Homo sapiens: one gene and its partners. The protein of the gene in region 7 interacts with the protein of the main gene of each other region in a pairwise test. Each region holds a gene or a part of one and is shown on either strand. Other genes may lie near its edges. The genes, in order: ASAP3, EXOSC8, NUDT10, OTUD4, CINP, PRKAA2 and REL.

The links.
Region 1: the proteins of REL (region 7) and ASAP3 interact in binary tests that used the Homo sapiens proteins (3 or more experiments, as listed by UniProt).
Region 2: the proteins of REL (region 7) and EXOSC8 interact in binary tests that used the Homo sapiens proteins (3 or more experiments, as listed by UniProt).
Region 3: the proteins of REL (region 7) and NUDT10 interact in binary tests that used the Homo sapiens proteins (3 or more experiments, as listed by UniProt).
Region 4: the proteins of REL (region 7) and OTUD4 interact in binary tests that used the Homo sapiens proteins (3 or more experiments, as listed by UniProt).
Region 5: the proteins of REL (region 7) and CINP interact in binary tests that used the Homo sapiens proteins (3 or more experiments, as listed by UniProt).
Region 6: the proteins of REL (region 7) and PRKAA2 interact in binary tests that used the Homo sapiens proteins (3 or more experiments, as listed by UniProt).

The regions. Positions count from the first base shown.
Region 1 is NC_000001.11:23,435,680-23,439,179, reverse strand, and holds part of ASAP3 (arf-GAP with SH3 domain, ANK repeat and PH domain-containing protein 3), read left to right. Parts: coding exon 1-19; intron 20-345; coding exon 346-433; intron 434-1,707; coding exon 1,708-1,756; intron 1,757-1,859; coding exon 1,860-2,050; intron 2,051-2,135; coding exon 2,136-2,269; intron 2,270-2,525; coding exon 2,526-2,620; intron 2,621-3,151; coding exon 3,152-3,329; intron 3,330-3,500. UniProt on the Homo sapiens protein: Promotes cell proliferation.
Region 2 is NC_000013.11:37,003,786-37,006,949, forward strand, and holds part of EXOSC8 (exosome complex component RRP43), read left to right. Parts: intron 1-730; coding exon 731-776; intron 777-2,134; coding exon 2,135-2,240; intron 2,241-2,329; coding exon 2,330-2,375; intron 2,376-3,164. UniProt on the Homo sapiens protein: Non-catalytic component of the RNA exosome complex which has 3'->5' exoribonuclease activity and participates in a multitude of cellular RNA processing and degradation events.
Region 3 is NC_000023.11:51,331,328-51,335,621, reverse strand, and holds the start of NUDT10 (diphosphoinositol polyphosphate phosphohydrolase 3-alpha), read right to left. Parts: upstream 2,801-4,294; 5' UTR 2,657-2,800; coding exon 2,163-2,656; intron 1-2,162. UniProt on the Homo sapiens protein: Cleaves a beta-phosphate from the diphosphate groups in PP-InsP5 (diphosphoinositol pentakisphosphate), suggesting that it may play a role in signal transduction.
Region 4 is NC_000004.12:145,174,090-145,177,589, forward strand, and holds part of OTUD4 (OTU domain-containing protein 4), read right to left. Parts: intron 656-3,500; coding exon 572-655; coding exon of another isoform or gene 551-571; intron 1-550.
Region 5 is NC_000014.9:102,350,337-102,352,890, reverse strand, and holds part of CINP (cyclin-dependent kinase 2-interacting protein), read left to right. Parts: intron 1-2,554. UniProt on the Homo sapiens protein: Component of the DNA replication complex, which interacts with two kinases, CDK2 and CDC7, thereby providing a functional and physical link between CDK2 and CDC7 during firing of the origins of replication.
Region 6 is NC_000001.11:56,693,814-56,697,313, forward strand, and holds part of PRKAA2 (5'-AMP-activated protein kinase catalytic subunit alpha-2), read left to right. Parts: coding exon 1-39; intron 40-2,121; coding exon 2,122-2,346; intron 2,347-3,500. UniProt on the Homo sapiens protein: Catalytic subunit of AMP-activated protein kinase (AMPK), an energy sensor protein kinase that plays a key role in regulating cellular energy metabolism.
Region 7 is NC_000002.12:60,888,074-60,891,573, reverse strand, and holds part of REL (proto-oncogene c-Rel), read right to left. Parts: intron 1-3,500. UniProt on the Homo sapiens protein: Proto-oncogene that may play a role in differentiation and lymphopoiesis.

The DNA of each region.
Region 1 (3,500 bases), on a different chromosome or scaffold from region 7:
GACCATCTCACACAGCACGGTGAGGCCTAGAGGTGGTGGGAGTCTCAGGGCACGATGGACCCTCTTCTTCTGGTGTTCTGAGCAAATAATGTCAAGCCCTCCCTCTAAGACTGGCCCCCAAACCTAGGTCCAGGGAGCTGGAGACCCGTTTGGGAGGACAGATGGGACCTGAAGGCCCCAATCTAGTCTTAGTCTACACTTCACATCCTTGAGGTGCTGCTGGGTGAGGAGAAACACAAATGGAACAGGATGATTATGCCCATTTAACAGAGTGGGAAATGGAGGCCTAAAGAATGTGGAGGGCCAGAGGTAATGCATACATCCTCCGCCCCTAAATTCCCACAGATAAACCGGCCCCCGGTGAAGCTGACCCTGCTGACGTGCCAAGTGAGGCCAAACCCTGAGGAGAAAAAGTGCTTCGACCTGGTGACCCGTGAGTGGTCCCTGTGCCTCTCCCCCACCCACAGCTGCTCAGGGCTTCTCTAAGACACCTGTCAGCTCCCGGGGGGCTTCAGTGAGGGGTCTGTGTCCAGTTCCACACATGGTGTCGAATTGCTGCTACTGCAGACATAAGAATCCTTAGGTCTAGGATACCCACATCACATTAAATGTCAAAATGCACCCACTTTACATAATAAATGTGGCTATTTATACAGAGCATATTTGAGTGGATTTGGGTCATCTGGGTTTTGAAATTATTTCTTTTTTTAAAATTTTACCTTTTTTTCCCAAATACCCAGACTTGAAGGAGATGAAATTATTGTTTCTTTACATTTTCTACTTTTCGTTCTTCAGAGCCTTTGGTGCAGGCTTTGTGTGAGAGCAGACACAGGCTGAGAAAGACCTAGATCTTGTCCTCAGGAAACTCTCTGGCAGGGGTGTGGGGTGGGTACCCAGGACTGTAAGATGAGGGGGCTGTCCAGAAGATGGGTGCAGATATAGCCCCATAGAAGATTAGGGAGCAGGAAGGCCTGCACTGCTGTGGGGAATCAGGAAAGGCTCCTGGAGGAGACAGTATTTGAGTTTAGCCTTGAAGGACATGTAGAATGAAGAGTTTGTGGGGTGGGGGCTTTTGAGGAGACAGGATTAGCATGATGAAAGGCATGGAAGCAGGAGAGTGGGTCTGGCCGGTTTGGCCAGAGTGGAGGGTTCATGTAGCAGAGTGAGAGATGAGGCCTGGAAATCCCTCTTAAAAGTTTGGACCTTATTTCCTGGCAATAGAGAGCCATGGGAGATCTTGGGGCAGGGCAGTGGTGTAATTAGAGCAGAGCCTTGGGCACAACAGTTGGGAGCTGGTACAGGCTAGGGGAAAGGGGAAATGGGAAGCAGGGAGACCAGACAGGAGGCCTGGTCGCCCAGGAGGAGACCAGGAAGGGCCCAGTGGGGTGGTGACAGTTGGTTCAGAGGATGCCCTGCCTCAGAGCTGGGTTCTCTGGGGTTCCAAGCCCTTTGAGACCTCGTCTGAGCCTGGAACCAGGGCTTCACGCAGAGGGAGCTTTGTTGGGATCCTACTTCGGAGGCCAGTTCTGAGAAACTGCCCCTGGTGCTGGCCACTGTCATTCCACTCCCTTCCCACTCCTAGCTTGAGAGTCCGACTTGTCAGGGACACATCTCCATGTGGCCCCAGCGGCTTTGGTGGGGGCTCCCTGGGCTCCGGGAAGGCCAGCAGCATTTCTGTGGGTCAGAAGCCCCCTTCTCTCCCGACAGACAACCGGACGTACCACTTTCAGGCAGAGGACGAGCACGAGTGTGAGGCGTGAGTGCCCCCTCGGCCAGCCCGGCCAGCCTTGTGGGTGGGGGCCGGCGGCCCTATCTCTTCCCACTTGACATCCCCATCCCACCCCGTTCAATCTCCGCAGGTGGGTGTCAGTGTTGCAGAACAGCAAGGACGAAGCCCTGAGCAGCGCCTTCCTCGGGGAGCCCAGCGCTGGCCCGGGGTCCTGGGGGTCCGCCGGCCATGATGGGGAGCCGCACGACCTCACAAAGCTGCTCATCGCGGAGGTGAAGAGCAGGCCTGGGAATAGCCAGTGCTGCGACTGCGGGGCTGCAGGTCGGTCCCCGGGGCCGGGGCAGGAGGGAGGCTTAAGTGGAGGGGAGGGGCTGCACCTCCAGGCTCCAGCTGCTTTCCTCTGCAGACCCCACGTGGCTCAGCACCAACCTGGGCGTGCTCACCTGCATCCAGTGCTCGGGCGTCCACCGCGAACTGGGCGTGCGCTTTTCGCGCATGCAGTCACTCACCTTGGACCTGCTGGGCCCCTCCGAGTTGTTGGTGAGGGCGGGGCGGGGCCTGGAAGGGGCCAGAAGCGGAGTTAGGGGTGTAGTTTCATCCGGGGGCGGGGCTTGCAGGTTGTGGGTGGGACCTGGCCGAGGTGGGCTGGGACAAGCCAGGTAGCGGGTGGTCAGGGGCGGGGCCTGAACCGGGAGGGCGGCCGAGGGGCGGGACTCTGGGGGCTTGGAGCTCCACCCTATGCAGGCTTAACCGCCCGGTCTTACTCCGCCCCACGTCTATTTTCCTACGACTCCAGCTGGCCTTGAACATGGGAAACACGAGCTTCAATGAGGTCATGGAGGCCCAGCTACCCTCACACGGCGGCCCTAAACCCTCAGCTGAGAGTGACATGTAAGGGGATTCTCAGAGAGAGGGGCACCCTGCCTAGGGGATTCTGCCTCCGCAGTGTCCAGGGTCGTAGAAAAGTCTTGGATCAGAAGTCTGGGGAGGCTGGGCGCAGTGGCTCACGCCTGTAATCCCAGCACTTTGGGAGGCCAAGGCGGGCGGATCACTTGAGGTCAGGAATTTGAGACCAGCCCGGCTAAGATGGCAAAACCCCGCCTGTACTCAAAATACAAGAATTAGCTGGGCGTGGTGGCACACGCCTGTAATTCCAGCTACTCAGGAGGTTGAGGCACTAGAATTGCTTGAACCCTGGAAGCAGAGGTTGTAGTGAAACGAGATTGCGCCACTGCACTCCCTCCTGGGCAATAGAGTGAGACTGTCTAAAAAAAAAGCCTGGGGAGAGGGGAGCCTCAGATCTAGACGTCTTCAGGACATGGTTCTGGAGAAAAAGAGAGCTGTATCTCCTGTGGGAGGGCCCCAGGGATCAGCTGGGCAGACACGGTCCATGCTCTGAGATCCTGTGGTTGTTTTTGGTAGGGGCACCCGCAGGGACTACATTATGGCCAAGTATGTGGAGCATAGGTTTGCACGCCGGTGCACACCTGAGCCTCAGCGACTCTGGACAGCCATTTGCAACAGGGACCTCCTGTCGGTACTGGAGGCCTTTGCCAATGGGCAGGACTTTGGACAGCCGCTGCCAGGGCCTGATGCACAGGTGAGAACCCCTCCAAGGGCCACTTATAACCCACCTGTCTAACATATTCCCCAGTTCTTCTCCAGGACCAGCTGTTACTCCCCTCCACCCCACCTCTGACATCTGCTCAGATCTCACCCATCAGAGTGGTAAGTGGGAAAGAGCACAGCTTCAGTCAGGCAGACCTGGGTG
Region 2 (3,164 bases), on a different chromosome or scaffold from region 7:
TAAGAGGTTAAATAACTTGCCTGAAGTCTCTCAGCCAGTAAGTATGGCTCTGACATTTGAACTGGCTTAGTAATTGCAGAGCATTTGCTTTTTTTTTTTTTTTTGAGACGGAGTCTTGCTCTGTCGCCCAGGCTGGAGTGCAGTGGCACGATGTCAGCTCACTGCAAGTTCCGTCTCCTGGGTTGAAGTGATTCTCCTGCCTCAGCCTCCCAAGTAGCTGGGATTACAGGCGCCCGCCACCATGCCTGGCTAATTTTTGTATTTTTAGTAGAGACGGGGTTTTGCCATCTTGGCCAGGCTGGTCTCAAACTCCTGACCTCAGGTGATCCGCCCGCCTCTGTGTCCCAAAGTGCTGGGATTACCGGTGTGAGCCACCGCGCCCAGCTGAGCTTTTGCTCTTTACCACTAAAGCAGCAGTTCCTAAATCTTGCTCTATCATCTGGAGAACAAATTAAGATTCTTGGCTAGTAGTTGGGGGCACAAACCCAGTTACTATTTTTTAAAAGATCTCCAGGTAATCTTGCCGAGCAGCACTGTAGTGTAGTCCACTGTACTGTAGTGCCTTCTTATCTTGTAGAGCTATTGTGAGGATCAGCACCAATGTCCGTAGAGGCCCTGACACAATTCCCTAAGCTGATATTTGATAGAGCCTTCCATAACTGATTGCTAAATTGTCTTCATAATTTTTCAGTAGCTTCTTTCAATAGGAAACATTTCTTTGCTACTATAGGAATTTGCAGCACCATCAACAGATGCCCCTGATAAAGGATACGTTGGTAAGTTAAATGGTTTTGTAATTTTAATACAAATACTTTTAACACATTTAATAATTTTTAGTTAAGTCCTAGTTAAGTTGATGTAAAGAAAATTATTCCTAATATTCGGAAATATTTATGAATAAAACAAATTCCTCAAAAGTTTTCCGTGTGTTAGTAAAAGATAGCATAATAGCAGGATATAGAATTTCATAAATTTAACCTTTATCAAACTTGTTTGCTCAATTTTTGTTTATACATTCATAAGTTACTAACCAAGAAAATAGAATTTTGGCTGGGTGTGGTGACTCACACCTATAATACCAGGATTTTGGGAGGCCAAGACAGCAGGATCGCTTCAGCCCAGCAGTTCAAGACCAGCCTGGGAAACAAAGGAGACCCCGTATCTACAAAAAAAATCAAGTTAGCTGGGTGTGCCAGTGCACACCTGTGTCCCAGCTACTTGGGAGGCTGAAGCAGGAGGATTGCTTGAGCCTGGGAGGTTGAGGCTACAATGAACTATAATTGTGTCACTGCATTCAAGCCTGAGTGACAGAGTGAAACCCTGTTTCAAAAGAAAAAAAAAATAGAATGGAATTTTTTTAAGTCAAAGAACTGTCATTGCACACCTTTTGTTTCCATAAAGATTCTTTGCTTTATACAACTGCTATTTTTTTCTTGCCTTGGAACCATCTGTTCTTTATGGTAGGAACCAACATTTTTTTTAAATGAGAAAAACAGTTGGATGTTAGCAGAGGGGCTATATATACTTCAGTTACAGATTGAGGTATTTTGAAAGATACCAGGAAAACTCGTAAAGGATTTAGAATTGAGGTCTAAAATAGATTTTTTAAAAAGGCATATGGGGGAAAAATGTCAGAAAAATAGAAATTTCATGGCTGGGAGTCTTAGAGAGACCAAACAGAATATAACTATAATGTTACAATGTATTCTACTCAGAAGAGCCTGTCCATGGCCACAGTTGCCTTTACTGTGGATTGATAATACCTTTAACACTTCAGTAATCCATAAATTGAAAAGTTTAGGCCGGGCATGGTGGCTCACACCTGTAACCTCAGCACTTTGCGAGGCTGAGGCGGGCGGATCACGAGGTCAGGCGATCGAGACCATCTTGGCCAATATGGTAAAACCCTGTCTACTAAAATACAAAAAATTAGCCGGGCGTGGTGGCGTGTGCCTGTAATCTCAGCTACTTGGGAGGCTGAGGCAAGGAAATCTCTTGAACCTGGGAGGTAGAGGTTGCAGTAAGCTGAGATCGCACCAATGCACTCCAGCCTGGCAACAGAGCAAGACTCCATCTCAAAAAAAAAAAAAAAAAAAAAAAGGTTTAGTTCATAGCTGCAGAGTGTTTCTTTCAGTTCCTAATGTGGATCTACCACCCCTGTGTTCATCGAGATTCCGGTCTGGACCTCCTGGAGAAGAGGCCCAAGTGGCTAGCCAGTTCATTGCAGATGTCATTGAAAAGTAAGAGCACCATGATAAAATTTTATTACAATTCATTTTCAGATAGTTTTGGGCTTTTCATTTACTTTGCTCTTTGTCATTAAATCAAGTTCACAGATAATTCAGAAAGAGGACTTATGCATTTCTCCAGGAAAGGTAAGAGGAATAGAGAAGCTATAAGTTCTTATTAATTCTGAAGGGATTTTTTTTTTGTGGGGGAAAGTGAACAAGGAAATTAAAACCACCAATCAAAGTAGCTTTAAATATGGATGTCTTACAGATTTTAGAGATTCAGTAATTTCTTACTCTATAATTCTCTAAATGAACCATATTGTTTATAAAAAAACAAGTTTGACTAACTTACTGCCTGTCTGGGAGCTACCTTTTAAACTGAAGTAATTTTTTTCCCCCTTAACTTTTAAAGTTCAATCATTTTTTATTCCTTATAGCAGATTATAACATTAATCATGTTAACATATGTTTATGGTGAATCCACACAGTAGATTCCAAAGTCTATTTGAAAATGTAAAACTAGGTTGATTAGAACCTAGAGAGGCTTTCCTACTAGATCATATAAACTGATACATTAGCACTGTAAAACTTAAACATTTCATGTATTATGAGAACGTGCATTTTGAATTTTAGCTAGGGCTTTCAAAACCATCTCCCTTATCTGTAACCTCCCAATGAGAATGGAAATTCCTTCTACATCTGTAGCTCCATTAAGGGAAATGGACATGTTTGTCATTTGTCAGCCTGGCAATCAAAAGCCAGCTTTCACAAAACCTGTCCACTTTCTTCTGGTTTTCTATAGAACTTTAAAAAGGTGAAGCATTTTCTTAAGGTTTTTGAGCCTTGAAAGTTATCTTGCTTGTTTAACCAAGGGTTCTGTGGTTCTTAAGTCTAAGCTAATAGCATGTTCTACCCATTAGAAGACTTTAATTT
Region 3 (4,294 bases), on a different chromosome or scaffold from region 7:
GTTGCTGTTTCTTTACAAGCTCTTACACATACACACTTCAATTTTTATCAATTTTCTACAGGACTTAAAAATATTTATGGCCACCTTTCACCCCTTTCAGGGTTACTTCTTTCAAAGGTGACCTGATCAACAGAACATAGGTTTCTTAGAAAATATGTTAACCATCCAGAGCAAATTCTGTATCAAGCAACCAAACTTACCTTTACTCCAACATGTCGTCTTCAAATTTTTTTTAGAATAAGAAAAAGTAGGCACTTGTCCATTGGGGGACAGGGACGAGGGGGAAAATCAGTCTTTTTTTTTTTTTTTTTTTTTTGAGACGGTCGCCCAGGCTGGAGTGCAGTGGCACGATCTCGGCTCGCTGCAACCTCCGCCTCCCGGGATCAAGCGATTCTCCTACCTCAGCCTCCCGAGTAGCTGGGATTACAGGCGCACACCACGATGCCCAGCTAGTTTTTGTATTTTTAGTAGAGACGGGGTTTCACCATGCTGGCCAGGCTGATCTTGATCTCCTAACCTCGTTATCTGCCCGCCTCGGCCTTCCAAAGTGCTGGGATTACAGGCGTGAGCCACCGCGCCCGGTCCCCCAGCCCCCACCCATACTCTCTTCAAAAACTAGACATTTCCTCAACTGTCATGGGAGATGAAATCCAGAAGAGGAACCTAGAATTTACATAGCGAAACCCAAAATTTCTTAATAGAAAGTGCGTAACAGTGACCCATAGAACAAGACTCCATCTCAAAAAAAAAAGTTAAGGGACCCCAATACCTGTCAATAATGTTTAAGAGATATGACATAGTCTAGGTTGCTCTAGAAATTAGGAATGATCTTTTCATTCGAATACCCTCTTCACAAAATAGGTTTTCCTTCTACCTAATGTCAGACATGGCTGGGGGAACAGCGGAAGGTCCAGAAGAGAGATTTAGCTATTCTAGATGGGATTCCTGACTTCAAGCAAGTACTGAGGCAAACGTGAGAGCTTTTAATTTGGCACCCAGAAAAGGTGGTACTGTGAGACAAAACAATTACTCTCTATCATTGAGAGATTGTTCAGGAATCCTAATAGTTTGACAATTCTGTACCAGCTGAACATCGCTAGAGCTAACTCTGTTGGGATGTAATCACCACAAAAGATTCCATTCCTGTGGTTACTGGGAGTCAGGGAGGTTAAGCGGAATGTCACTACATTCAAATATGGAATGGAAACCACTTTCTTTCAAAAACAAACTTAAATCCAGAGAACCATGGTTCTTCTATGGTATCCAGTAAGGGGCAATGGGAGTTGGAAGTTGAGTATGGGAAATCAAATTCTGTGAATACAGTTTTTCTGATCAGATGCGTTTGGCTAGCAGATCCCCAGCAGCATCTATTCAGTAAGGTTAATCTACATGGGAAATAGCGATTTAAAGTCAGCAGTGAAAAATTACTTGTGAAAATTTTTTGAAAACCAAATGACCTACATAGAAATAGAAAAAGAAATTTCTGAAAGGGGCAAATGAGATACCACTTCAGAGGCTAGAGCGACTGTCGAGTGCAGAAAGAGCACAAGATGTAGGATTTCCTAATGTTTTTACGAATTCAAAACTGATTTTTTAAACCAACTCCCACCACAGAAGGCCTCCCTGACAACAAGGGCGAACGCTGTGAAGGAGAAAACAACTCAAGGGAAAAAAATACTAAAAGATGCCACACAACCAAGCTGGTCAGACTTTAAAGGCCTCCACTACCAAACAAACCACAAGGCTGGTATCAAAAATGTGCACGCACCCACGAATATGTGTGAAATATAAAAGAACCAAAAACATCACAGGGCGCACAGGCAGACACACACACTCCCCGCCCACCCCTCGCCCCCCACCCCCCCCCCCCCCGCCCAAAAGCAGGGTGAACAGTTACAGCACCTAAAACCCCAAGCGGCATAGGCTTCTCCGAAACATTTTACAGGGTAACCAAGAAGCGATTTTGAAAGCAACTGAAAAACGTGCCAACTGAAAACAGGGCCTGGCAACAGTTTGCAAGCGTGATTCAGAGGGTCTGCCAAGGAAACAAAAGCCTCCCTCCTGCCCATGAGACCGCACATGGTACGAGAGGTGCTCCAGGCGGGATGCATTTTAAGCAAGGCAGACAAACAGAAGTCTGTGCGGGCGCAAGCGGTACATACTAGGGATCGCTATCTGGCGAGGATGGGGCCATGGAGTTTCCATTGGTTGGGGAACCGCCCAGCTTTAGTTTCTCCAGATATTCGGCGTGCACGGGCTTGTGGCACTGGAGAACCTTGATGGCATCTTCGACTTTGAACCACTCTCGCTTCCTCCCAATGCTAACCGAATCTTCCCAATCCTCCAGCAGCTCCGTGACAGTCAGTACATACACGTACGTTCTGTGCTTGGGGTCCTGGTTCTGTTCGAAGACGCCCAGGAGCCGGCCTAACTTCCCCTTGACTCCCGCCTCTTCGTACACCTCTCGGACCGCCGCACCGCCCGGCTCCTCCTCGGGCTCCATGCCCCCGCCCGGCACGATCCAGCGGTCCGGGTACCGGCTGCTACTCACTAACAGGACCTCGTCCTCGCGCTCGCTCCGGAAGCACAGGCACGCCGCCCGCTTCTTGAACCCCTCGGGGTCGTAGGTCCGTGTCTGGTTGGGTTTGCACTTCATCCTCGAGGCAGCCTCCTCTCGCCTCTCGCTGCTGTGTGGGCCGCCGACGCAGCTGCTGCCGCTGCCGGGCAGCAGCCGAGGTGCTGGGAAGAGAAAGGGCCGAGGAGAGGGGCGGGGAGAGAGAGGCGCCTCCGTCTGCCGTCTGCCCCCGAGCCCGGGGAGCGGAGGGAGAGATGAAGCTGGGCGGGGCACGGGCGGAGGCGGGGGCAAGCGAGGCGTGTCAGTCAGCCAGTCCGCCAGTCCGATGGGCGGCCGGCCGAACCCGGGCCCGCCGGAGTGGAGGAGGCGCTGCTGCCCGCGAGCCCGCGACTCTCCACAGAGCCCACCCGCTTCTGCGAGGTGAAGCGCATTCTCGGGCGCGTCCGCGCTCCCGTTCACGTGCGCGTTCGCAGGGGAGGGCGTGGGCTGAGGGGCGAGGAACCGGGGCGAGGGGCCAGGGGCGGGGGTCTCCTGGCTCCCGCAGCGCGCAACGCCTGGGGCCCACTGCGCAGGCGCTTCGCACTCCTGGGGCCAGGAACCTCCTTGGCGCACAGCGAAATTCACCGCATTGTGACTTTGGCCAAGACTGCCTCCATGTGTGCCTTTGACCCAAACTCACTGTGGCACGGCAGGACGTTTCTCCTCTCACTCCCCACTGCGCTGCAGGAAACCCACAGGCAGTTGTTTCACACAAGACAGGGGCAAAGGCAGCGTCGTCATCATCCTCCCCCACTATCAACCATTCTGGCTTACTCATGGGACCTGGGCCCTAGTGTTGTCTGCACAACCCACGGGATTCTTGGCACAGTAGCCGGGCATCTTTGCTGAGTCACATGATGCAGTTTTATTTCTTCAACAGGTTCCCACCTTGCAGAGCATCTTGGCGCAGCCAGTAATTTAACGCTTTTCTTAAACCCCTGTTCACAACCTGCCTGACCTCCCTGCACCTCAGTTTCCTCATGGGTACACTCCTCGCCTCCGTGTTGCAGCCATTTGCACTTCGATGCAGTACACCTTAAAGACCAGAGCACCACCCATCTAGTAGTCCTGCGTTAAAGCCCAGAGACGTTCTCCTATTCTCCACACACTCCACCCTTCTCTATCTTTCTCTTTGATAAGCACCACTTGGTGTTTGGGAAACCATGCACATGGAGATCCCGTCCTATTTCACAATTTTATTTTATTTTATTTTTTGAGATGGAGTCTCACTCTGTCGCTCTGTCGCCCAGGCTGGAGTGCCGTGGCACGATCTTAGCTCACTGCAACCTTCGCCTCCTGGGTTCAAGCGATCCTCCTGCCTCAGCCTCCTGAGTAGCTGGGATTACAGGCGGGTGCCATCACGCCTGGCTAATTTTTGTAGCTTTAGAAGAGACGGGTTTCACCATGTTGGTCAGGCTGCTCTTGAACTCCTAACCTCGCGATCCGCCCACCTCGGCCTCCCAAAGTGTACTATTAACCACCACAAAACAAATAAAATACTAAGGGGTCCTAAAAATGTGGTTAGGACTTAGTAGTACAAAATGGTTGAACTTCTACTCAGAGCTTTGAAACATGATTTGAATGAATCACGAGACACTCTAGCAAAACTAGCAGACTAGTGGGGTGTCTGGGTTCGAGAGGGGCCAATCCAGGCTCCGGCCACAGGGCAGGGCTGCTTCA
Region 4 (3,500 bases), on a different chromosome or scaffold from region 7:
TCTGCCTCCTGGGTTCGAGCAATCCTCGTGCCTCAGACTCAAGAGTAGCTGGGACTCAGGCATGTGCCACCATGCCACTACTTTTAGTAGACACAGAGTTTTGCCATGTTGGCCAAGCTGGTCTTGAACTCTTCACCTCCCAAAGTACTGGGATTACAGGTGTGAGCCACCATGCCCAGACTGAATTTTTTTTCTTTTAATTTATAGGGAGTTACCCATCACAGAAACCACTATTAATCACAACACCCCCAATTCCCTGACCATGTCAGACAAAGCCCACTCTTAGTATGCAAGGGCCTTGTCCAGGTCATCTTTCCATCCCCCACAGCTCAGCGTCTTATCCATCATAGTAGCTTTCTAAATGTCCAAATAAATGCAAAACATAAAATAGCCTAGAAAACAACATAACTGAATATAACTAGATTAAGTTCAATAGAGAAGTTTTTTTAATAAGTGTTATTTTCATAACCCGCATTAAGATCCAGCCTGTGAAATTCTACTAGAACACTTCTAAAAGCCAAAATGTAAAACCAAGTCAAGACACCATTACATGTTTGAAATTACAAGTTACCGCTTCAAATTTCTCTCTGTTCTCTCGAAGATAGTGAATACAGGCCATTCTGACTTCAACATGGCGAGACTGAGAGTGCAATACCTAAAAAGAAAAGGCAACAAACACACTATTAAGCATTTAGTTAAAAGTTACAACCTAATGTCTTCTTTTACACCCAAAATAATCTGACAACCAATAGATTATCAGTCTTTCTCCATTTCCCTTTCTATAATTTCGATATCTTTACTCATTCCTACCTCTTCTTCTAACTAAGCACAGCGAAGACATGACATATACAAACAATACTACTTCTTAAGCCAAATTTGTAAAGAATTTATTAGCCTTTCTCCTTTAGGACATTTTTGTAAATTTAGGACACTCTCTTCCCTTGGCCTTCCCTCCACAATAACTTTACTCTTCACAAAGAAGAGCTAACAAAATCCATGCTACGCCACGCTCAACTTCATCCTATACATATTGAAAAAGACAAACTGGCAACTTCTGTAGGAATGTATTTTGAGGCTTTCAGCCTGTAAGAGGCCGATTTATTTTTCCCATTAATTCTGAATCCACTTAGAGGCTCTGTGTAAAAATTTAAGTCCACTATGGTTTCAGAAAAATTAAGGCACTCATTCTTTCCTTGGTGATCAAGCTTATAAGACAAGAAAGAACATCCAAGTAGGCAGCATAGGGGGTGCAAAAATGTTGTGTGGTATCATCCCAAGAGGTTTGGGGTTTGTTTTTATGCCCTAAATTGTAAAGTACCAACCTACAAAGTATGATCCAGATCCTCTCACTCTGCAGTTTACATTTTCTTCTATTAAACAACCAGTTCAACAAAAAGATAACTTACTGGCATGTGGTCTTTTACCAAAATTCTAAAGCTGTGAATTGAAACAACTATTTCTTTTTTTTTTTTTGAGACGGAGTCCTGCTCTGTCACCCAGGCTAGAGTGCAGTGGCGCAAGCTTGGCTCTCTGCAACCTTCACCTCCCAGGTTCAAGCGATCTTCCTGCCTCAGCCTCCTGAGTAGCTGGGATTACAGCCAACTACCACGGCGCTTGGCTAATTTTTGTATTTTTAGTAGAGACAGGGTTTCACCATCTTGGCCAGGCTGGTCTCAAACTCCTGACCTCGTGATCCGCCCACCTCGACCTCCCAATGTGCTGGGATTACAACAGGCATGAGCCACTGTGCCCAGCCTGAAACAACTATTTCTTATCCAATGCTTCCTTCTAGCTAGCTCCCAATTCTTTTTTCCCCCACCAGGCTGGAGTGCAGTGGTGCAATCTCAGCTCACCGCAACCTCCGCCTCACAAGTTCAAGCGATTCTCCTGCCTCAGCCTCCCGAGTAGCCGGATTACAGGAGCTGCCATGTCCGGCTAATTTTTCTTTCTTTCTTTTTTTTTTTTCCGGCTCATTTTTCTATTTTTAGTAGAGACAGGGTTTCACCATGTTGGGCAGGGTGGTCTCAAACTCCTGACCTCAGGTGATCTGCCCGCCTGGGCCTCTCAAAGTGCTGGGATTACAGACATGAGCCACCACGCCCGGCCCTAGCTCCCAATTATTTAACATGCTTAAAGGAGATTAAAATTCTTTTCTATTACTGGGTATCTCAAATAAAGATATTCCTGTACCGTAAAGGGTTATGGTTTAAAAAAAAAAAACTCAGACACACTTAAAGTAACACATTTCAAACTACCATCAAGGCCTCTTGAGAATTTATATTAATAGAAAGTATCTTTAAAAGTTACAGATCCTGGCCGGGCACTGTGGCTCACGCCTGTAATCCCAGCACTTTGGGAGGCCGAGGAGGGTGGGTCCCCTGAGGTCAGGAGTTTGAGACTAGCCTGGTCAACATGGTGAAAACCCCATCTCTACTAAAAAATACAAAAAAAAAAAAAAAATTAGCCAGGTGTGGTGGTGCGTGCCTGTAGTCCCAGCTACCTGGGAGGCTGAGGCAGGAGAATGGCTTGAAACCAGGAGGCAGAGGTTGCAGTGAGCCGAGATCGTGCCAGGGCACTCCAGCCTGAGTGACAGAGTAAGACTCTGTCTCAAAAAAAAAAAGTTACAGATCCAATTGAGTGGTTCTCCCTTTACGTTTAGCATGAGTAGAGCATTTGGGAAAAGGGAGGCTCCAGCTGTGCATTCTACAGCTCTCTTGGATCACAACCAAGGCTCATTTATACCCACAGAACCGGCACAACTGCCTGGACGCCTAGTATGTCCTATTACGCTGAGATACACTGAAAATGCACCTGTTGAGGTTAGCAATTAGTTTGTTTTCAGTGTAATAACTGGTTTTCAGTTTAACTGATTCTACCTTCACTGCTGTTCTTGGACACTATTAAACTATATTCTTATATATTCTAAGAGTATGTGACCAAAAAGGACTATCTATATATAAAAATAACCACCGTAGAATTTTTTTGCCAATTCAACAAATGACATTTAGCAACACTTCTTTCACAGAAGCTATGTTAGACACTATCATGAATCAAGGTATTACTCGTATGAATAAACCACAGTGTCATCTGATAGGGCTTTCCTCTGCCATTAGCAACGTGGAGCTAGTCTTAAAGCCATTTACCTAGCAACAGGTGGCAAACATAAGTTAGTAAAGCTTATTTTCAATCAAAAGCAATGGTAGGCATATCTACTGGTTCTTCTCTTTTAACAAAGATTTTGGCACATACAATCTATCTGAACCTGTTGCTCAGAAGCAAAACTCTTAGCAACTTCTATAAAGTGTGAGAGTGCTGGTAATTCACAAAGTCAAGCACTGCAAGAAAAGCAAGGTTAAATGACAACTGTCTAAAATGTAAATTATTGTGCAAGGTTGATAACACTTCGAAAGAATTAAAGTAGTATGACAAATATCTCTGCAAATTAATATATACATGAAAGCAAACTAGAAGGCTTTCCCATTTTTACTTGGGACAAGATA
Region 5 (2,554 bases), on a different chromosome or scaffold from region 7:
GATCACCTGAGGTCAAGAGTTTGAGACCAGCATGGCCAACATAGTGAAACCCCATCTCTACTAAAAATACAAAAAATTAGCTGGGGGTGGTGGCAGGTGCCTGCAATCCCAGCTACTTGGGAGGCTGAGGCGGGAGAATCACTTTCGGAGGTTGCAGTTAGCCGAGATCAAGCCACTGCACTCCAGTCTGGGCCACAGAGTGAGACTCCGTGTCAAAAAAAAGAAAAAAAGAAAAAGAAAAGTGGTTTGGGAATAAGTTCTCATTCTATGTTCAAAACCAAAAGTTGATTTTATAGGGTATTATTATTTTTCCTATTTTCCTCTATCCGTTATAGAGAATGGTTTCCAGACCTGGTCTGTGTCTTTCATAACTTTGACCTTCTGGGGGTTTCATGCACCGTTCTTCCTAAGCTGGGCTAACATTTCACTGTGGTCTGTGTTTGCTGTGGGAAGAAGCCACCGATGTTGAAATGTAAGGGCCTGCTGTTTATGCACTGTTCATTCAGGGCTGCACGTGCCTATGTGACTTGAATTCTTTATTGATGGCTGAGCTGCAGGATTGAGCATGACTTCTTGCCTGGGGTCAAGGCTCCAGAATTTTCCTTAGTCTCCTGTTATCAGCTTTTCTTAGAATCAGGTGGCACCAGGGAGCTGCTGCAGGACTCACAGGAAAGAGCAGAGGATTGGGTGTTAAAACTTGGTGTCGGCTGGGCGCGGTGGCTCACGCCTGGAATCCCAACACTTTGGGAGGCTGAGGTGGGCGGATCACAAGGTCAGGAGATCGAGACCATCCTGGCTAACACAGTGAAACCCCAGCTCTGCTAAAAGTACCAAAAAAATTAGCCAGGCACAGTGGCGGGCGCCTGTAGTCCCAGCTACTTGGGAGGCTGAGGCAGGAGAATGGCATGAACCCGGGAGGCGGAGGTTGCAGTGAGCGGAGATCGCGCCACTGCACTCCAGCCTGGGTGACAAAGCGAGACTCTGTCTCAAAAAAAACAAAAACAAAAACAAAAACAAAAAAACTTGGTGTCAGAAGGCATGGTATCGAGTTCTGGCCTCATCCTTCCTCAGCTCAACCTTAAGCAATTTCCCAGCTGTGAAACGGAAATGACAAGTCCTGCCTCTTGGGGTTGGGCCAAATAAAATATCAAACCTTAAAAGATTTGGGAAACTACTTAAGTAAAGTCCTTTAAAAATTAACGTTAGCTGAATTTAGTGCTTGCCACTTCCAATGTAATTGGAGGGTGGTTGGAAGGACCAAGTAAAGGAATTAAGATATTTGACAATTTATATATCTTTTCTTATTTCCCCTTTTTCATATTTATGTATGTAAAGTCAACTATACTTAGGAGTTCAAAATTTGGTCTTTATAGACCTATGCTACTTAAATCTGAAATCCTAGTTACTTCACCCATTAATTTTCTTTATCCAACCCTTATATATCTCCAAGTAGGTGCTTCACAAATACTAACTCACTTAATCCTCTTCACCAAGCTGTGAAAGTAAGCCCGCCATTGCCCCTATTCTGTGCTGCCTGGTGTGTGCAGTGGGGTTGGTTTAGTGTCTCCCACAAGTAGCCATACACATCATGCAGTTACAGGGCTTAGGACAGAGCCTGGTCCACACTGAGGGACCGTCAATGGCAGCTTGCCACGTTTCCTTCCTTTCTGCGTGAAGTGTGTAGGGCTCCCTTTCTGTGTTGCCATTTTATAAACAAGGAAGTCAAGGAGGTTTCCGTAAATAAAGGCAGTTAATAAGAGAGAGTCAGGCCTGGTGCGGTGTCTCATGCCTAGAATCCCAGCACTTTGGGCGGCCGAGGTGGGCGGATCACGAGTTCAGGAGATCAAGACCAGCCTGGCCAACATGGTGAAACCCCGTCTCTACTAAAAATACACAAATTAGCTGGGCGTGGTGGCACATGCCTGCAATCCCAGCTACTTGGGAGGCTGAGGCAGGAGAATCGCTTGAACCAGGGAATCAGAGGTTGTAGTGAACCGAGATCTCGCCACTGCACTCCAGCCTGGCACTGCACTCCAGCTTGGCAACAGAGCAAGACTCCGTCTCAAAAAAAAAAAAAAAAAAGAGAGAGAGAGAGAACATCAGAAACGAGCTCATTTGATAGAGAGACAGAGAGCCTCAGAAACGAGCTCATTTGATAAAAGAGAGAGAGAGAGAGCATCAGAAACGAGCTCATTTGATGCCTTTCTCTCTCACTTCTTAAAAGCAGCAAGAGCCAGCCAGGCGCGGTGGCGCATGCCTGTATAATCCCAGCACTTTGGGAGGCTGAGGCGGGAGGATTGCTGGAGCCCAGGAGTTAGAGACCAGCCTGGGCAACATAACGAGACCCTGTCTCCACAAATTAAAAAAAATTAGCTGGGTGTGGTGGTGCACACCTGTGATCCCAGCTACTTGGGAGGCTGAGGTGCCAGCGGTTGAGGCTGCATAAGGCATGATCATGCCACACAGAATGAGACCCTGTCGCAAAAAAAAAAAGAAAAAAAAAAAAAGGCAGCAAGAGCCTGCCTTGGGATTCCTCCAGGTCTTTGGGTCTAAG
Region 6 (3,500 bases), on a different chromosome or scaffold from region 7:
ATCTCCAAATTATGCAGCACCTGAAGTCATCTCAGGCAGGTAATAATCAGTGAAGCATAAGCTTTTTGTAATCTTGTGTTCATTTTGATAACATTTAATTACAATATATTCTCTATGGAAGGTAAGATTTTAACATGGTAGAAATGGATTATTCATTTATTTTTCCACTGTTAAAGGGATAATGGTTATATCAAAAAATGTTAAACATTTCATTTAGATGTCATTATAAATATACTTACGAAGTTTTCCCCATTAGAAAAATAACTGAAGTAGATCCTGATTTAACATATCTTTCATTTTACAAAAGTGCAGATAAGAGAGTAAGAATTTGCTAAATTTAAGCTAGTGTCATTTATTTATTAGATATAGTTCTTTAATAATACCTTGCATATTTTCCAAAGTATATAGAGCATTGTTTTATATTTTGTGTTTGGAAAAATGAGATTTTGGGGGAAAATATTGTTTCATGAAATTACACAAGTAGAGATTGTGTAGTTACTCATAACTTATTCATTGGTACATTATAAAAATGTTTATACAGATTGCAGTGGTAAACTCAAGTCTTTCTACAGTGATCAACGTGTGATTTTAAAAGTTAACAGAATCCTATAAGAGAAAATATGGTTAAAGTATTATTGCAAATAGCAGATAAAGAATTATCTTAGTCCATTTGGGCTGCTATAAGAAAGATACAATAAAGGTGATAGCTTATAAACAACAGAAATGTATTTCTCACAGTTCTGAAGTCTGGGAAGTCCAAGATCAAGATTTGGTATCTGGTGAGGGTCTGCTTCCTAATAGACTACTGTATGCTCACTGTAACTTCACATGGTGAAAGGGACAAGGGATCTCTCTGGGGTCGCTCTTATAAGGGCACTAATCCCATTCATGAGAACTCTGCACTAGTGACCTAATCACCCCCCTTAAGTCCCCACCTCCTAATACTATCTCCTTGGGGGTTAGGATTTCAACACATGAATTTTGAGAGGACATAAGCATTCAGTCCATTGCAAGGAGTTTGAACAATACAGCAAATGATGTAAACAATCACCATTTTTTATATAAACAGATTATATTCTTTTCATTAGAATAGTAAAGATTTACTTTGTTACCTCAGACCCAGGTTTGAGTATGGTAATATGCTATCATGGGAATTGTAATGCTGTAGAAACGTAAGAGAAAAAAGGAATAATACTATAAGCATAGGTTATCTGGATCAAAGATGATTTTAGTCATATGAGTTAGGAAGTGATGAGAATAGAAATAGTAAGTACTCAGGATAATGTGATACAGGATAAATACTGTCTACACAGTACTAATTAAGTACTTTAATGTTTTAAATATCTCTCTCTCTATATATATGATATATTATATATATATATATATATATTTTTTGTTTTGAGATAGAGTCTCGCTCTGTCACCTAGGCTAGAGTGCAGTGGCACAATCTCAGCTCACTGTACCACCTCCTGGGCTCAGATGATCCTCCCACCTCAGCCTTCTGAGTAGCTGGGACTAAGATGTGCACCACCATCCCTGGCTATTTTTTGTATTTTTAGTAGAAACAGCGTTTCACCATGTTGCCCAGGCTGGCCTCAAACTCGTAGCCTCAAGCAATCCGCCCGCCTCAGCCTCCCAAAGTACTAGGATTACAGGTGTGAGCTACCGTGACCAGCCTTAATATTCTTTAAAGGTGTGCCAGGGGTAGAAATTCTATTATATGTATACATTATATATATGTTTTCTTTCTTGTAATAGTTCTTTGGGAAAAAGATTTAACCTATACACCATAGTATTTTTTCAAGTTTGTGGTCATCTACTTTGTTTCCCTCAAAAATCAACCACAGAAAGTATTATATGTTTTAATTCGTATGTTTCAGTTAAATGAATTTGTGACAAATAAAAATACCCTATTCACTTGGCAGGCTTGAATAGTAGTTGGCTAGCCCCATTACTCTCTTTGGGGAACAAACACTGAATATTGGGGAGCAGCCATGGACTTCATTAAAGACCTTGGAAATGAATATGTACTGAATGTAGACTACCTATATATAGAAGTAGGGTACATAGAGAAAAAGTGATTCTTGCATTTCAGGTTTGTGTTGTCATCTTTTTTCTTAGATTGTATGCAGGTCCTGAAGTTGATATCTGGAGCTGTGGTGTTATCTTGTATGCTCTTCTTTGTGGCACCCTCCCATTTGATGATGAGCATGTACCTACGTTATTTAAGAAGATCCGAGGGGGTGTCTTTTATATCCCAGAATATCTCAATCGTTCTGTCGCCACTCTCCTGATGCATATGCTGCAGGTTGACCCACTGAAACGAGCAACTATCAAAGACATAAGGTGATTTTTCTTTTTGTTTCTGTTCTGCATATTTTCTCATAGGAATAATAATGTTAATTAAATGATTCTCCCAAAGTCTCATTTCCTGCCCTCACCACCTCACCCCAGTACTCATGCTTCAGCCACATTGAACTTGTCCTTGTTTCTCAAACCTAACATAGATTTTATGCCTTCATGTCTTTGTTTATATTATTCACTTTGCCTTGATGTCTTTTCTTGTTTCTTTTTTGACCTGATAGACTTCCATTCATCCATTAAAGTTCATGCCACCCCTTTTGTGATTTCCACACGTGCTTCCATTTCTGTTTTATCAACATTTTGTTCATGCTTTTATTATTTAATCCTCATCCTGTATCTAGTTATTTCTCAGTGTGTCTTTTTTCTCTCTTAAATTATGATATCAGGGTAGAGAGTGTGTCTTATTCATCTTTGACTACACAATGCTAAAAGGCCTGGAAAGATGGTATGCTTAGAAAGTGTCTGAAGAAATTTCAAATGGAGAAATAGGGTGAGATTTTGTATTTTACATATGGTTAAAGACATAAAGCATAAAAAGTTTTGCTAAGTTTTTGAATTCAATAGCTGCTAGTCAGCTTACTGTGAAGGCTTTTTTGTCACTTGAGAAAGTTTGGAAAGTGCCATTGCTGATGCGCCTATGAATATGACCTTTGTATATCCCACACCTGTGTATAGTAGCAAGATGATTCACTGCATCCTGCCTATGACTTATCAAGGCATGTTTCTTAGAGGTTTTTTCTTCTTACCTAAGATTTCATCCGTGTTTGTTTACAAACATGTTCTTTTGACATCTTTCCAGAACTCTTTCCCCTTTTCATCATTAGCCAGCAAAGAATTTTTTTTTTTTTTTAAGGCAGGGTCTCACTCTGTCGCCCAGGCTGGAGTGCAGTGGTGTGATCACAGCTCACTGTAGGTAGCCTCAACCTCCCAAGCTGAGGTGTTCCTCCCACCCCAGGCTCCTGAGTAGCTGGGACTATAGGCACAAGCCACCACACCCAGCTAATTTTTTTTAATTTTTTTATTTTTAGTAGAAATGGAGTTTTGCCATGTTGCCCAGGCTGGTCTTGAACTTCTGGGCTCAAGCAATCCACCCACCTTGCCCTCCCAAAGTGCTGGGATTACAAGTGTGAGTCGTT
Region 7 (3,500 bases):
CCTCCTAACATTAAATAACAAGACCGAAATGTTATCTTGGAGATTGGCTGGGAGAGGCACCTTTTTTTCCCATTCAAATTGAGTCCCTATGTAGTGTCAAAACAAGTCATTCAAACCATATTGACTGGTTAGCACTTTATAGCTTAATATCTATAGCTAACGTCAATATGAAGTTCTGAGATAACCACTTCAGAGATATCTGCCTCCCACGTGAGACCTAGCAGAAGGGTTTCCCCCAAGATTCCCCAAGAAGGGTAAAGAAGGCAGTATTCAGAAGTAAAATATCACACTCCTAAAGTGAGTTAAATATATTTAACTGCTTGATTTTACATCATATTCATAATACTGAATGAAAAGACCATTCACTGAAAATGAAAATGCATTTAAATCCTTGCAGAAGCATATGTAAGTTTTTTATATCTCCATTCAAATATTAAAGGACTTACACACAGTATATCAAAACAAGCCCCAGGAGGGACTTTAGGCTCAAAGAATGTGCAATCAGTCCCATGCAAACCTTTTCTAAAGACATAATAGAGAAAAAAAAGTATTCACTTTCTATAATAACTAAAATTCAAAATATGCATCTGCAGAATGAACTGCTGCTACATATAATAACATGGACGACTCTCAAAATGATTATGCTGAGTGAAAGAAGTTAGACCAGAAGAGCACATACTGTATGATTCCATTTATATGAAACCCTAGGATATGTAAAGTAATATACAATGAACGATAGCAGATCACTGGTTGCCTAAGAACAGGGATATATGGTGGATAGGAAAGGCAGGGGGGACATTATCTTGTGATGATGATTCCAGGGTTGTATACATATGTCAAAACTTGTCAAATTGCATACTTTAAAAGTACAGTTTGTTGTACATAAATTATATGTCAATAAAGCTATTTAAAATGTATGCAACTTTACTTTTATTATCCAAATTGTGGGGGAAAAGGTAAATAGACACTCAACTGTACTTGCAAGTAGGGGAGTTAATAGGGGTGTGAAGATGTTTTCCATTAAAAAATAATAATAATGTGTCCCTTAATCACTTTAGTGCTGACTAAGGCTTATCCTGTTAGAACGCAAGCAATCCTGAGAAATGGTAACACAGTGGGCCTTATCAGAACAGTATGGAGAAGAGGCCTTTAGAATCCTACCCCAGCTACTTCTTAACAGTAAGACCAAGGAAATGTGATTAAAATTAAAAATCTCTTAGTTTCCTCCTCTGTAAAATAGGAATAATCATAATAGCACCTACCTCATTGGGTTGTTGTGAAGATGACAGATTATATGTGCTAAATTCTTACGAAGTGTCATATATACATACACATTCAATAAATGTTGTCTACGTGAAAAAATGCTCATCATCACTGGCCATCAGAGAAATGCAAATCAAAACCACAATGAGATACCATCTTACACCAGTTAGAATGGCGATCATTAAAAAGTCAGGAAACAACAGGTGCTGGAGAGGATGTGAAGAAATAGGAACACTTTTACACAGTTGGTGGGACTGTAAGCTAGTTCAACCATTGTGGAAGTCAGTGTGGCGATTCCTCAGGGATCTAGAACTAGAAATACCATTTTACCCAGCCATCCCATTACTGGGTATATACCCAAAAGATTATAAATCATGCTGCTATAAAGACACATGCACAAGTATGTTTATTGCGGCACTCTTCACAATAGCAAAGACTTGGAACCAACCCAAATGTCCAACAATGATAGACTGGATTAAGAAAATGTGGCACATATACACCATGGAATACTATGCAGCCATAAAAAAGGATAAGCTCATGTCCTTTGTAGGGACATAGATGAAGCTGGAAACTATCGTGAGGACAAAAAAACCAAACACCGCATGTTCTCACTCATGGGTGGGAATTGATCAATGAGAACACATGGACACAGGAAGGGGAACATCACACACCAGGGCCTGTTGTGGGGTGGGGGAAGGGGGGAGGGAAAGCATTAGGAGATATACCTAATGTTAAATGACAAGTTAATGGGTGCAGCACACCAACATGGCACATGTATACATATGTAACAAAGCCGCACGATGTGTACATGTACCCTAAAACTTAAAGTGTAAAAAAATAAAAAATAAAAAAAAATGGTGTCTATTATTTCAGATGCTTTCTTGAAAACAATGATTTAGTGATACTATGGTGGTATCCCAACTGTCACTCTAAAGGACCTTATAGAAGAGCAAGGCAAACAACATATATTATTAGACTACAGAAGGAAGGAAAGCACTAACAAAATTCTGCGGAAATAAGAGCGAAAGAGTCAGGAATGCCCAACTGTGTCAGTGGAAAAAGAGCGGTTAATGAAGCAAAAGAGCGGAGGAAATGAAGAGGAAAAAGGTAGGTATTCTAGGGAAAAGGGAACAGTGTGTCCACAGAGGAGGGTTTATTTAAGAATCACCAATGTAAATGGAACACACTTTCTCTCTTAAAAAGAGAACTAAAAGTCAGAGCACACTTGGCAATGTGGATTTCATTTTATGTGTGATGAAATCAATGAATATTTTGATGCAGGCAAATCACATGATCAGATTTGCATTTTAGAGTAAAAGTTTTAGTCACAGTGAACAGATAGAAAAAAGAAAGCAATGTCATCAGTTTAGAGACCACTATAATAATGTGGGCAATGATGAGGGTATCTCTGATATATGGCAGTGATAAGATGAATGAAGGATTATTTAAAAGATAAAATTGACAGCACCTGGTGCCTGAACAGTAGGGTTAAGAGAAATTAAAGAATCACTGATAGCTCAGAAATTAAAGAATCATTGATGATTCCATGGCTTCTACTTTGGGTTACTGAATAAAGTATTACTGTAACTTTCAATTTTATTCTGTATGGTGTAAACTCCCTGTGTTTGAATCTACTACCTATTTGTTTATTCAGAAGATGAAGAGCCAGAGAAAACTGACTTTAACCTAAACAAGTTCATAATCCTTATTTCAGTTTTACTCAAAAACATAAGATATGCAGATGAGTATTTCACGATTTTATCCTTGCATATTTTAAAGATTTCAAATTCACATTGCAATTTCAAATATTTCATACCCTTATATATCCTTGTAGGAGTATTTAAGAAAGTATATTTTCCTCTTAAAAACTGTTAAAATCAACATTACTTTTTAAGTCACATTTTAAATAATTTATGTGGCTGAAGTAAAGGCCAAATAAATCCCTGCCCACTACTTATTTAAAGGTGTCTTGGTGGGAAACTGATATAAAATGACATCGTTAATGATAAGTGTTTAACTTTGGGAAGAGAGAGTGTGAATAAAACTGCTAGGTTCATAGTGAGCATTCAAATATTTCACTGAGGCTGGGCATGGTGGCTCATACCTGTAATCCCAGCACTTTGGGAGGCCAAAGTGGGTGGATCACTTGAGGTCAGGAGTTCCAGACCAGCCTGGAAAACATGGTGAAACCCCATCTCTACTAAAAATACAAAAAATTAGCGGGATGTGGTGGCAGG